Regions from separate parts of the Homo sapiens genome. Here region 1 is linked to region 2. Evidence: fine-mapped expression QTL. A gene starts in region 2. The other region holds a variant in brackets. All regions are shown on one strand. Distances are between the middles of the regions.

Region 1 (2,919 bases), 40 kb before region 2:
GGAGGTAACTGGTTAGAAGCCAAGATTAAGAGTCATTAATGGGGCTGGGCACGGTGACTTGCGCCTGTAATCCCAGCACTTTGGGAGACCGAGGCAGGTGGATCACCTGAGGTCAGGAGTTCGAGAGCAGCCTGGCCAATATGATGAAACCCCGTTTCTACTAAGAATACAAAAATTAGTTGGGCATGGTGGCGCACACCTCTGGTCCCAGCTACTCGGGGGGCTGAGGCAGGAGAATTGCTTGAACCTGAGAGGCAGAAGTTGCCATGAGCTGAGATCGTGCCACCGCACTCCAGACTGGGTGACAGAGCAAGACTCTGATCACCCCCACCACCCCCTCCCCCACCAAAAATAGAGTCATTAATGGTCAGGCTTAGATATCCAGTTCTATCACCCATTGGCTATATGATCTTAGCTAAATTATGTAACCTCTCTAAGCCTCAGTTTCTATCTCATTGGATGGCTCACATGTGAATAACAAGACGTCCCTATCTTCCAGCTGGTGAGCTTCTTGTGAGGCACAGGTATACTGTTTCCTGTTTATCTCTTTGCTCTTCTTGGGGAGGATGATATGTAGCTGCTCCACTGAAGGTAAGCTTGGCCATGTACTGATGAAATGTGAGCAGACATGCCATGTGTTGTTTCGGGCAGAAACTCAAAGAGCCAGTGAGTGCTTTGCCATGGTCTCCAAATGGTAATGTTCCAGGTAGTGGCCATTTCATCAGCAGAGGTCCCAGGGTCAAGACAACTTGGAAGCAGAGCATAGTGAGACATGAACCAAGCCACTGAGATTTGGAGGTCATTTGCTACCGTGGCACAACTGACTCTCACCTGGCTGATTAGAACATTTTACATTTAGGAGAAGTTTTTATAGCCCATCATTGCACATCTGTAGCATAGCGTGGGGCATTCATATGTGGGTTTATTATAGACCCTTAGTAAAGAGCCTAATAATACCCCATTCTTTAGTGGCCTCTAAGTATACTTACATGTTTTGATGAGAAGCTGACATTTCTCCAGAATATTTACTAAAAACTAAATTTGGGCCAGGTATGGTGGCTCACTCCTCTAATCCCAGCACTTTGGGAGGGAATTCGAGACCAGCCTGACCAACATGGTGAAACCCCATCTCTACTAAAAATACAAAAATTAACTCGGCGTGGTGGTGCATGCTTTTAATCCCAGCTACTTGGGAGGCTGAGGCATGAGAATCTCTTGAACCTGGGAGGTGGAGGTTGCAGTGAGCTGAAGTCGCACTACTGCACTCCAACCTGGGCAACAGAGTGAGACTGTCTAAAAAAAAAAAAAAACTAAACAACAAACAAAAATATCCAAAGATTTTCTTACTTAAGCCCATTTTCAATGTTCACTAAAGGATCTTGCAGCTTATTTTTGCCTTGTTAAAACTCTTCCTTCTTCA[T/C]GTATCTTCTCAAGCATCATATCCCCAGGAAGCATTTCCTATCTGTGACTGCCCTACTATGCATCCCAACTTACAAGGTTTCCTTTGTTGGACACTCATTATATTTATGTTACTCCTTTTCCCCAGCATTTATCTTACTTTGATTATATAATCATTAGTGTCATTATTGGATTAATTTCTCCCCTACAAGACTTACAATTTCTTAAAAGCAAGGCGCTTGTTTAATTTTTCATATTATTGTGTACAGGGTATTGGCTCCATACATAGCACTTGGGAGGTTCTCAGTAAATCTCAATCTATCTTTTTCTCTTAAAAAGTGGAGTGTAAAAATTCAAATCTTGCTAAATGAAATTAGATTAAAATTAGATTAAAAACCTCAAAGTAAGAAAAGTAGGGGAGGATGTCCAAATGTCTACTCAAGAAATAAATAACATTGATCAAACCCGGGGTACAGGTTTTCCTCTTTTCTCATTTCACCCACAGAAATATGATCAAGGGTGTTGATGGATTTGAAGGTTTATTCTGTTTCTTTCTGAGAAATTGGTACTTTCGTTAAAACAACTGAATTACGTAATTAGCAAACACTAAACTATTGCCGTGAATGTTGCTTTAAATTGAAGCCACTTAAAAAACAGAATTGGAAATGGCTTTTCTATGCATGCAGATTTCTGTGTTAATAAAACCCACACAGGAGATGTGGCAATGGGAAAACAGAATCTGCAAGTTATTTTTGAAAATGTTGACTGGCAGAGAAAGGGACAGTTCCTTTGTAGGAGAGTGGAGGTAGAACTTTCCCAGGGAGAATTAAAATCAAGTAGGGTATAAACAACTGTCCTGGGAGGTGGGTGATTTTACTACATGAAGCTGAGGTCTCCCAGAAGGAGTTTACCTTTGTGAGCACGGAAATAAAATCCAGTGATGAGGAAATCTCAGAAGCGTCTACATAGTCCTTGATGATGCCAAAGAGACTGTTCACAAAACCAAGGCTTGTCTAGGGACAGAGAGAAAGAAAACAAAAATAGGCACACACCCAGGGTTAAGGAATAAACATTTGTTGAACTTCAAGTATCATTCTTACAGGTGTTTCCCATTTCAAATATATCTCCTAGAAAAATTCAAAGATTTATTTCCTCCACTCTCCAATATATATTTTCTTATAAGTATTTCTTATAAATAAATTCTTGTTATCTCTCTTCCTTTACTTTTAAGAGGAAAAATATTATTTATTTATAATGTATGCGAGAAGAGGATATTCATTTGAAAATAAACATTTATGAAGATGATGGAGATCTTAGGAATGTGTTTACTTTTTAAAATAGCCATGGAAAAATGACAAATAAAGGGTAACTAATATCTACAATTTATGGGAAAGGCATAATGGATATTTCAACTTCTTTCTTATTAACCTGAAGTCCTGACTGGGAATGGAATATGGAGATGTATTATGGCATACAAGCCATAAGAACAGACCAAGCATGAATTTTCATGGTCCTCTAGTG
Region 2 (2,919 bases):
AGCCTCACAGAATCCTCATGCTGCAGTGCTCCTGAGTAGTTGGGGCTATGGATGCTTACCACCCCACCCAGCTAATTTTGAATCAATAGGTACTTTCACACATACATACAATCAGGGCCGTTCTATTATTTTTCTCCTTTAGAAGACTGTCCAAGTTCTAGGCAGCAACAATGTTAAAGGAATTCAGTATATTTGCATAGGCACTTGCATAATAGTTAGATCAGATTTCTTAGTCTTTGGGTTTCCCCTCTGTCCTTCTGGCCTTTTCCTCTCCTCTTTTGAGGGGTTAGGATACGGCTTTGGGTTTCCTTTGTAGTCGTTCAGACACAGGGGTGTAGCTGCTGGTAGGAAGTTATTTATGGCCAATAGGATTCACATCGGTAAGAATTATTTATTAGCCACTGTCTTAAATATTGGAACCAAGGCAATAGTAACTGCCGACATGATGCACTGCGGAAATGGAGAAACTTTAAAAACAGCAGGGCTTAGGGAGGTGGTTTGCAGAAAGGCAGGAAGAGCTCAAGCACCAGAAGAAATGGGTCTGGTTTCTCTTCCAGTATCACCGCCAATTGGCTGTGTGACCTAGGACAAGCCACTTCTCCTCTGCCAACTGCCATGCAGCATTTACCAAGAGGACATCAAAGAACCTCCCTCACAGGCCTGTTGCAGAAATTAAATGAGATAATGGCTAAGGCTCCTGGGAAGCTTTCCCTAAATGACTACACCCAGTGGATCTGGTAGAATCAAAAGTTAACAAGTCAATCCATTCATGCTAACTCTTCTTTATGTTTAAAAGAGGAAATTAATACATGGTCACCATAAAGAAAATTCACCAACCTTTGACCTTCCAAGCTTTGAGAATCCAGCAAACACCCACCCACACTGTTGGGGAAGCCATCTCACTGTACTAGAAATGAAACCATTGCAGGTTAATGATTCACTAATTCTAATGAGACCTGGAGAGATCAGCAAAACAAGCGAAACTGATAGCAATAGGACAAAAGGAAAGTGCAAGAGAGAAACCCAGAAAGCAGCTGAATGTTGCCTTTAATACCTGTAAGATGGTCTGTCCCTGAAGGCAACTGCACCCAGGTGGGTCCCGAGGCTCCTCAGAACCCGCAGATCCAGAGTGAGCTGCCAGGCGAGGGCTCGGAGCAACAAGTTCCACACCTGTAACAATGCGTCCTCCTGGCTGAGTGAAAGCAACCTTGCTACCAGCTGCAATGAGGAACTGGTCTCTCCCCTCCTTAGAGACATTTCCAGTTATTTGTTTATGAAAAAGCCTAAAGGGAAGCCAGCTCAGAATCTAAGGCAGCCTAAGAACAAGTCAGGTAAACAACGGCTGATCAAATACAGAAATGATGCAAATGTAACTTTTTACTTCCTCTTGAGGCATTCAACAAATCATCACTCATAGTTCAGTGAAGCAGTTCTAGGTTTCTATTTCATTTATTTTCTCTAAGGTTGTGAGATGCATTCTTTGGGACTCTACTTTCTTCACATCATAAAACATTTTGTGTTGATCTATTTTATTAATGACTTGCTTTGATAAGCATTGAATAGTAGAGGAAATGATTAGAGCACCAGGGAGTGAATTTGTGAACATTAGTTTTCAAATAATTAAAATGCAAATGGAAGAGCATTTATATCTACCAGTATTCTCATTAGATCAGTACCCCAAAGAATATTTATTTGATGCCTAGGTGGAGATAATGCATATGTATGCAGCATTAAACAAAAATGTCTATAGACTTTCCCAAAACAAAGTTGAAGTAATTCTAATGAAGTCTAATTCACTGAAGTTTTCATTGATTGGACTCATTACAGATACTTACTGTGAAGGTTCCCTGAGGTCGGTAGTTCTTAAAGTAGGGTCCCTGGACCAGCAGTATCACTATGACTTGAGAACTTGTTAGAAAGGAAAAATCTTCCCCCTCCATGCTCTCCAACCCCTGGAACTCTGGGATGGGGTCAGAAGTCCGTGGTTTTTTTTTGAGACAGGGTCTCACTCTGTCACTCAGGCTGGAGTGCAGTGGCACGATCTCAGCTCACTGCAACCTCCACCTCCTGGGTTCAAGCGATTCTCCTACCTCAGCTTCCTGTGTAGCTGAGATTACAGGTGCACACCACCAGGGCCCGGCTAACTTTTGTATTTTTAGTACAGACGGGGTTTCACCATATTGGCCAGGCTGTCCGAACTCCTGACCTCAGGTGGTCCACCCACTTCGGCCTCCCAAAGTGCTGGGATTACAGGTGTGAGCCACTGTGCCCAGCCAGAAGTCTGTGTTTAACAAGACTTCCAGGTGATTCTTACATGGGTTAAAATTTGAGAACCACTGCCCTTAGAGGAAAAGAAAAAAAGGTCTAACTTATAGATGTTGGCCTTGTGATAAACTTTATATTAGTCTTTAATTCTCTCATATTGATCTTACTAGAACATCATTTACTTAGAACTTTGAAAAATGACTTGATCTCCTGCCCTCACCACCATTGCCAACATTACCATGACTCAACCAAAAGCAGGATATCAAAAAATATTTTGCCTGCATGGAGCCTGCATAAACAGTTCTGAGCTCCTGCCAAGGATGTCTAGAAGTGAATTGCTTCAATTTGGGAAGGAAAAAAATGAATAAAGTCTTTTAGCTTTTAGTTTGTGGAAGGAAGGTCATACTCTTTTCTACCAATCCCCTCACGCACATGGGATTGTAAAGCTGTCTCTCCTAGGGGATAATGATAATGGAATACTTGATCCCAATGCAAAAACTTCCAACCTCTGGTTGTAACTTCAAGAAGGAAATTAAGAGTCTTATAGAAAGGTCACAAAAGATTATCACGGAAAAAAATGTGCCACCTCCATCTGATTTGTCAAGGAGATGGCAACAGGGAGGCATTTTGGGTGGGGAAGGGACACCCCAGAGT

What was found. PIP is the estimated chance that this variant, and not a neighbour inherited with it, causes the effect.
Region 1: its variant is fine-mapped to the expression of PLEKHG7 in tibial nerve (GTEx, PIP 0.96).

Annotation. Positions count from the first base shown.
Region 1 is chr12:92,740,983-92,743,901 of GRCh38, reverse strand. PLEKHG7 (pleckstrin homology and RhoGEF domain containing G7) reads right to left here. Exons shown (of 17, transcript NM_001377329.1): 9 at 2,310-2,411. Among named protein-coding and RNA genes, the nearest start is that of PLEKHG7, 39 kb to the right of the region's middle. The variant T/C (reference allele first, on the strand shown) is at 1,421.
Region 2 is chr12:92,701,268-92,704,186 of GRCh38, reverse strand. PLEKHG7 (pleckstrin homology and RhoGEF domain containing G7) reads right to left here and starts at 1,198. Exons shown (of 17, transcript NM_001377329.1): 1 at 1,055-1,198. RefSeq lists an enhancer at 998-1,057.